Linked DNA regions of Homo sapiens: region 2 is linked to region 1. Evidence: fine-mapped expression QTL. A gene starts in region 1. The other region holds a variant in brackets. All regions are shown on one strand. Distances are from middle to middle. Region 1 holds the start of NSD3 (nuclear receptor binding SET domain protein 3). Region 2 overlaps ASH2L (ASH2 like, histone lysine methyltransferase complex subunit).

What was found. PIP is the estimated chance that this variant, and not a neighbour inherited with it, causes the effect.
Region 2: its variant is fine-mapped to the expression of NSD3 in putamen (GTEx, PIP above 0.99).

What each region holds. Positions count from the first base shown.
Region 1 is chr8:38,379,663-38,384,182 of GRCh38, forward strand. It overlaps NSD3 (nuclear receptor binding SET domain protein 3), which reads right to left and starts at 2,609. Exons shown (of 24, transcript NM_023034.2): 1 at 2,137-2,609. It also overlaps a transcript of LETM2 not described here. RefSeq lists enhancers at 1,132-1,666, 1,957-2,747 and silencers at 2,396-2,795, 2,826-2,975, 3,166-3,515.
Region 2 is chr8:38,134,157-38,138,156 of GRCh38, forward strand. ASH2L (ASH2 like, histone lysine methyltransferase complex subunit) reads left to right here. Exons shown (of 16, transcript NM_004674.5): 14 at 1,512-1,610. Among named protein-coding and RNA genes, the nearest start is that of STAR, 15 kb to the right of the region's middle. RefSeq lists an enhancer at 1-548. The variant A/G (reference allele first, on the strand shown) is at 1,920.

The sequences.
Region 1 (4,520 bases):
AAGCTTCTGTATAACAACTGAGAGGATGTTGCCATTTAGGTAGGTTAAATGTAGTTCAACTGGTTTGAGTCCACCATATTACAATGTTAACAGGCCTTCTTGGTATTAGAGAACAGTTTCAATATCAATGTGATAGGTTAAAGTTTGGATTACTCCAACTGCTATAATAAAAACAAAAGGTCACACACACATTTAATCCAATATGAAATAAAATAGGCTCTACTTAACACCAATGTATGTTCTGTAAATTTGTCAGGATTTAAACCTTAGAATAGTAATTATTTCAAATTGTACAAGTAGTTACAGTTGAATATATTAGTTACTGTAGTTTCCTGAGAGTCAACTGAAGTTTCAATCAAAAAACGAACAAACAAAACAACAACAAAAAAACCCTGGCATCTCAATGAGACTCTAAGAACTGCATGCCTACTTCACAGATCATTGCACTGTGCTGAACTGGCATCTGGAGATTGTATTGAGCCAGCTACATGAAGGCAAAGAGAAGAGATGGGGAAAAGAGAGTTTATTTAAAAAAGAAAATACTATTCTTAACACACTCATCACTTAACACGCTCATCACCTATAAGCAAGAGCTATCAGAAATACTATTTAAAAATACATACATTTCTAATTTTTCAACATTCAAAATACAGCAAGCCGATAATCTACCACAAGCAGAGCTTCCTACCCCTTTCACCCGGACACAGCGCTTTGCCAAGAGCACAGGCCCAAGTAAAATAACCGATGCAATTTCCTTGTTTACTTAAAGAATTGCAGAAAACATGTTGACTGCTTCTGAGGCTTCCGAAACAAACGAATTTTCAATACGTAAAAGACTTCACGATCATGTTTGATATGTAAGCGTAGTAATGATTCCTTCAGCTAGTAAAAATCTAGTTTTAAATTGATTAAATGGGTTAAATTTACACTGCAGCTCATTAGCATACCTTGTTTGCAACCAGAAGGAAGAGGGTAAAGAGAGGGAGAAAAGCATCAAAAAGGTAGTGATGGAAAACATCACTACCTCCTTTGGCGGTTATGAATAATTTAAAATGACCCAAGACGTAAGGGGAAAAGAGTTCATGAATAGAAAGAAAGGGGGCTAACAGTCTGAATTGGCCCCTTCCAGATTCATACTGATGTCGGAGAGGAAAAGGAATTTATTTACACTGCAGTGCCTTGGCAGCAAACATGGCTGCCCCTGCCCCCTTTAAATCGAAATAATCTTCACTCCCTCCCCAAAACCATCAAATTATGGCCATGTCTCTCCCTGCCTCCCTTCCATAACACAAACACATCGCCTTCTCCCTCAAAACAGTAAAACCCACACCTCCCCATTTCACAACAATCACAATCCCATAACCACCAGCTTCTCTATTCTCTAGCCTTGAAAGAAAGACACAGAATACACACAAATACAGGAACAAAAGGCCTCCCTTCCTAACACTTTAACGACCTCCATCCCCTTCTCTTCCTCCCACTCTGACGCTAAGTCGATCGTTCTCATCCCTGTCATCATTCAGTTAATTTCCTTCCCTAGCCCAATCCTGTCTTCCAGTTTCCTGCGTCTATTTCCCATTCTCCTATTGCAGCCTGCCTCATCCCCTTTCCTAATCCACCTTTTCCTTCACTTCCATTCCTCATTTCTCCCTTCATTCCCATAAAATGCCCCATTTCTCCAGCAAATTTATCCCCTTCTCCCAGACTCTTCTGGTTCCTACACTCCATCCCCAAATCTCCCTATTTATCAGTCCACCCAGGTCTGTAATCTCCATGCAACTCTTCTCCCCTTTCCCTGCCCCTCCCCGATCCATCCTTATCCCCGCCCCCATCCCACTTTCCCAATTCCCAGCTCAGCGCCACTCCGACTCCCATCCCACTCCCCACCTCCCCTGGCCCACCCCCCAATTCCCTCCACACCCCCCACCTTGCCATCTGCTCCTCCGTCAGGACTCCCCTCGAGCCCTTTCAGGCCACCCGCTTCCCCTTCCATTCCTCCTGGGGTCTGGCGCTCCATCCCTAGGTCGCCCCCTCCCCGTCGTTCCCTCCTCAGCCCTTCCTAGCACTACACACGCGCGCGCGCGCACACACACACACACACACACACACACATACACACACGCACACGCACTTTACCTTCAGTTTGTTCCATTCTAACCCCCCGGCCGTGTCAGTGCGATCACAGGAGAGACACGGAGGCCCGGAGTGGGGCTGGGGTGCGGGCAGCCGCTGGGGCCGCGCGAGGAGGAGGCGGAACCGAGCTAGGCCGCATGAAATCCCCGGGCTAGATTTTCCCCGCGCCGGACGCCTCTGCCATGGCGGCCGGCACTGAGGAGGGCCACGGCCGGGCCGGGCCGGGCGTGCTGCGGGAAGAGGAAGGCTCGGGAGGTGGGATGGGAAGGGGAGGCCGAGGGACGGGGGTCGCCGCGCCGCCGCTGCTGCCAGAGAGGAGCCTGCGGCTGGCAGCCCGGCCTGGGTAGCACGGTCCTCGGCGCTCGGCTCGGAATTCGCACGCCTCTCCGCGGCGACCTGTGCACAGCCCCCTCGGCCTCCGCCTCCGTGCTGGCCGCCGCCGCCGCCTCTCCCGCCGCCGCCGCGCACAAAGCCCCCCCACCCCGACTCTCGGGGCGCCGCCGCCGCCAAATCCTCAGCCCCTCATTGGCCGCGGGCCGCGGCGCCTGCCGGGAAATGCAGTCCCTGGTTCGGGACGCTGGGGCTCCGGAGGAAGCGGCGAGTCGGCGGGGCGGAGGGGGCGGGAGCGCGAACCAGGAACGCCCGCGGCAGCTAGCGTCTGGACGACTAGGGAGACCGGGCGAGAGGGCCGAGGAACGAGGGACGGGGAGGGACTGTACGTGGGAGAGTGACACACAAAACACCCCGGGAAGCCGGAGGAGGCGTGGAAAGGTGGGGCCCGGGAGGTAAAACTGGGATCGGCGCGTTCAGTGAGGCTGATTAAAGAACAACGCGCAACCAGCGCCATACGGCGCTCCTCAGGGTGACTCGGCTCTCTAGCTCTTAAGGGTTAGAAGCGACCCTCGCACGGTCCCCGGTGGGTCACCGCGCGAGGGCGGGGCAGTCCAGGCGACCCCTCGGCCGTCTCCCGTCCTACGGCTGTCAGGGAAGGGCTCCGGTTCCGGTAGGGTCTGCATTTGGAAAGCCGGGGGCGATGCAAGACCGCCTTGGCGTCGTCTCCCTCTCAGCCCCGGCTGAGCTGTCGGATGGTCCCCCTCCCCCGGTTGCAAGCAGTAGGAGACCCGGCCGGCGGCGCCGGCTCGCCGAGGGAGCGCCTCGACCTCCCCGGCAGGCGCCGGCCCCGCGCGCCTCTTCCTGCTCTGCTGCGGCCCGGAGGCTTGTGGGTAACCGGGAGGACGACGTCAGCGCCCGCCGCATCCCCGGGTGCCCCCCAGCCGCGGGGGACCGCGACGGCTCCGTGACCGTCACGTGCCGGAGGCCGCGGCTGCTCGCGGCCAGACCTTCGCATCGAGGGACGTGAGGGACATTTGTCCTAGAGGGCCCAAGATAAGAACGAGAGGAAGAACCGGGAGGCAACTCTCCGTCATCCTCTAGCCCCCCGCATCCTAGGAAACGTATGGAAAACAATGGAAGGTTAAGTGTGTGCACAGTGATCTGGCCCTGCAGGAGTGTGCCGACCAGGTGATATTTCCTGGGGCCTGGTGATAAGGATTTGGAAGGTTACAGCACAGAGACGTGAACGTAAAAAGGAAACAGAGGCAGCAAGCAAATGAGGAAACCGATACTCTGTTCTGAGAATAAAGCCATTTTACCGCTAGACGTCATACTCTGTAGACGTTATAGTGCTGGATGTCTTTGGTACTATTACAAGAAATTAGATATCTCTATCTTTAAATATCACTTAAGGAAATTAAATGATTTCTACAGATCAGTTATTTAAAAGGGCACTAATTATGAACTATTTTTTTTAAACGTAACCCGGTTAATACTAGATACTGAGAATTATCAGTATTGGCTGGGCGCAGTGGCTCACGCCTGTAATCCCAGCACTTTGGGAGGCCGAGGCAGGCGGATCACGAGGTCCGGAAATCGAGACCATCCTGGCTAAGACGGTGAAACCCCGTCTCTACTAAAAATACAAAAAATTAGCCGGGCGTGGTGGGGGGCGCCTGTAGTCCCAGCTACTCAGGAGGCTGAGGCAGGAGAATGGCGTGAACCCGGGAAGCGGAGCTTGCAGTGAGCCGAGATCGCGCCACTGCACTCCAGCCTGGGCGACACAGAGAGGCTATGTCTCAAAAAAAAAAAAAAAAATCTCATTACTATTAATCATTAAATATTTTTAAACGTATGCTTTAAGTAGTACCACAAGTTACAGCTATCAGTAAAAGCATACTTTTTATTTGTGATATGACATTTTAAAACACAGATGGCCAAAGCGGGCCACCAAGTCTAGCTTAATTCTATCTCCAGGAAAGAGGGATTAAATTGGTCTTTTTTTTTTTTCTATGAGCCTTTCTACCTCCATTCTTCTTTTTCTTCCTCCTGTG
Region 2 (4,000 bases), 250 kb before region 1:
CTCAAGTACCCAGGGACACAAACACTGCGGAAGGCCGCAGGGTCCTCTGCCTAGGAAAACCAGAGACCTTTGTTCACTTGTTTGTATGCTGACCTTCCCTCCACTGTTGTCCTGTGACCCTGCCAAATCCCCCTCTGTGAGAAACACCCAAGAATGATCAATGAAAAAAAAAAAAAAATAGTGGCCTGTTGGGAAATCTACAAGAGACTGAGGAAGCAAGTCCAGTGTCTTTATTCTTTATCAGAGGAGGTATCAAGTCCAAAGGGAGGGAACCTGGAGTGGGAGAGTAGACCTTGTGGTGTGGCCCAGGGGCACTAGGAGCTGTAACGTCTCACTCAGTGTCCTTCAGAACTTTCTCTGCCTCCACTTCCGGGGTTGCTGGAAACATGTCTGCCCAAGGTCATAGCACAGTCAGAGAAAGGCTGGCACATCTGGGCCAGCCACAAGCACCAAAAATAAAAAGGGAAGTGGGATGTAGAGGAAGAAAGTTAAGCTGGAAACATTTTTTTCATAAAAATGCTAATGCTGTGAGGCCACCCAGGACACTAATAGAAGGAGATGGAGGTGAAATAAAGAAACGAGTTTCAGCTGTTTTTAGGAAAGAAATACTAAAGAGAAATAATTATTAGATCTAAAGATGCAATAACCAGAAAGCCCCCTCTTGTGGGAAGAGAAGGCAGCCTTTTCTGAAGAATTGAAGTGGTCAAGAGAGGATATTCAGTGTAATTCTGGGAGAGAAAGGAGGAACATGAGGATTCAGAGATGTGACATAAGAGTCTTAGAGAACTTCAAAGTGAAAAAGCAGAAGTGAGAACTGACTCGGGGAAAGGAATTGATAAACAAGCACGCTTAAACAGGTGTGGTCCCAAGGAGTCCATGGAAGGCCAGCTTACTTTAAAAAAAAAAAAAAATTTTGTAGAGATGAGGTCTCACTATGTTGCCCAAGCTAGTCTTCAACTCCTGGCCTCAAGTAATCCTCTCTCCTCGGCCTCCCAGCTTACTTTTATAAATACAGTGCAATGAATAATAAAATATAGAAATGTTTGGTATATGTAGCACAGGAATTCAGAAAACAAAGCCCCGGACTTTGAGACCAGTCTGGGCAATACAGTGAGATCTGTCTCTATAAAAAAATTTTAAAAATTAGCTGGATATGGTGGTGTATGCCTGTAGTCCCAGCTGCTTGGGAGGCTGATGTGGGAGGATCACTTGAGCCAAGGAGGTTGAGGCTGCAGTGAGCCAAGATCACACCACTGCACTCCAGCCTGAGTCACAGAGTGAGACCCTGTCTCAAAAAAGAAAAAAAAGCCTGAATAGTGCATATTAACATGCTTTGAAAAATCGAAAGTATTATAAAAATTGAAGATGTTGTTATTACACAAGTTATGCACTGTTCTTGGGTGAGTGACTAGCAGTCTGGCAGCAGCACTTCTAACATATTTTCCTAGAGAGTTCTTTTTTTGTTTGTTCTTTTTTACAGTTCTGAAGTAAAACCATGGTTTTTGTTTCAGATAATATTTTATAAAAATGGTGTCAATCAAGGTGTGGCTTACAAAGATATTTTTGAGGGGGTTTACTTCCCAGCCATCTCACTGTACAAGAGCTGCACGGTACGTACATGTTTCCATCCCATGAGCAAAACTTGAGGGAAGCAGATGAATGGGTTGTGATGACAAAGTTACTGAGTGCTGGAACGAAATCCAAGCAGCCTCAGAGTGGCATGCGCATGTGTTGTTACCATTACTGTTTAGTCCAGAAACAGTTTGGGCATCTTAGGGAGTATTTGCTGGATAGAAAAAGGTCCTGCAGTTTGTGTGCGCCATACTTTTCCCTTGAGCACGTGGTGTGGTGTTACCGTTCAGTAGGAAGGATATAAATACACATACACAAATCCTCCTGGGATGTCATGATAACCCACC[A/G]TTATTAGTCATTGTTGCTTACAATGATTTTTTTTTTTTTTTTTTTTTTTTTTTGAGACAGTGTCTCACTCTGTTGCATAGGCTCACCATAGCCTTGACCTCCTGGGCACAAGTGATCCTCCCACCTCAGCCTCCTGAGTAGGTGGGGTGTGCTAATTTTTTGGTTTTTGTTTTTGTAGAGGCAGGATCTCACTACATTGCCCTGGCTGGTCTCAAAGTCATGGGCTCAAGCAGTTCTCCCAGCTCAGCCTCCCAAAGTGCTGGGATTACAGAGAGGCATGAGGTACCACATCTGGCAAGTTTTTTTTTTTTTTAAATATGATCCAAACATGAAGAAGGGTACTATCATTAGGGCCTGTTGGTTTTAAAAATATATAGGTAGATAGGTAGATAGATACAGATATATAGAAAAGTTGGGGCTGGGTGCACTGGCTCACGCTTGTAATCCCAGCACTTTGGGAGGCCAAGGTGGGTGGATCACTTGAGGTCAGGGGTTCGAGACCAGCCTGGCCAACATGGCGAAACCCCGTCTCTACTGAAGATACAAAAATTAGCTGGGCTTGGTGGCACATGCCTGTAATTCCAGCTACTCAGGAGGCTGAGGCAGGAGAATCACTTGAACCCAGGAGGCGGAGGTTGCAATGAGCTGAGGTCGTGCCACTACTCCAGCCTGGGTGACAAAACGAGACTCTGTGTCAAAAAAAAAAAAAAGAAAGAAAAGAAAAGAAAACTTAGGCCAGTCGCGGTGGCTCATGCCTGTAATCCCAGCACTTTGGGAGGGTGACTCAGGCAGACCATTTGAGGTCAGGAGTTCAAGACCAGCCTGGCCAATGTGGTGAGACCTCGTTGCTACTAAAAATATAAAAATTAGCCAGATGTGATGGCCACGCGCCTATAATCCCAGCTGTGGGGGAGGCTGACGCAGGAGAATCACTTGAACCCGGGAGATGGAGGCTGCAGTGAGCCAAGATTACACCACTGCCCTCCAGCCTGGGCAATAGAGTGAGACTCCGTCTCAAAAAAAAAAAAAGGGCGGGGGTGGCGCTGGGCACAGTGGCTCACGCCTGTAATCCCAGCACTTTGGTGGGAGGCCGAGGTGGGCAGATCACGAGGTCAAGAGATCGAGACCATCCTGGCCAACGTGGTGAAACCCCATCTCTACTAAAAATACAAAAATTAGCCGGGCATCGGCCGGGTGTGGCGGCTCACACCTGTAATCCCAGCACTTTGGGAGGCCGAGGCGGGCCGATCATGAGGTCAGGAGATCGAGACCATCCTGGCTAACACGGTGAAACCTCATCTCTCTAAAAATACAAAAAAAAAAAAAAAAGAAAAAAAAAAGCTGGGCCTGGTGGCGGGAGCCTGTATTCTCAGCTACTCAGGAGGCCGAGGCAGGAGAATGGCGTGAACCCAGGAAGTGGAGCTTGCAGTGAGCCGAGATTGTGCCACTGCACTCCAACCTGGGCAACAGAGCGAGACTCTGTCTCAAAAAGAAATAAAAAATTAGCCAGGCTTGGTGGCACGCGCCTGTCGTCCCAGCTACTCAGGAGGCTGAGGCAGGAGAATTGCTTGAACCTGGGAGGTGGAGGTTGCAGTGAGCCAAGATCATGCCACTGCACTCCAGCCTGGTGACAGAGCAAGACTCCGTCTCAAAAAAGAAAGAAAAAGTTAATGCATGAAGATTTCCATGTACTTTTAGTCTGTCAGTAGGCACCATTGAAGCAGGTAAAAAAAAAAAAGGAAATCTTTAAACAGTGTAAACCAAAACTATCTGAGACAGATCTCAATCAATTTAGAAGTTTATTTTGCCAAAGTTAAGGACCTGCCTGTAAGAAAAAAACAGAATCACAGAAACAGTCTGTGGTCTGTGCCTTTCTCCAAGGATGAATTTGAGGGCTTAAAAGTTTTAAAAAGAAAAAGGGCTGGACGGAGTGGCTCACGGCAGTAATCCCAACACTTTGGGAGGCCAATATAAGAGAATCAGTTGAGCCCAGGACCTCGAGACCAGCCTGGGCAACATAGCAAAACCCCCTTTCTACAAAAAAATACAAAAAATTAGCCAGGCGTGGTGGTACATGCCT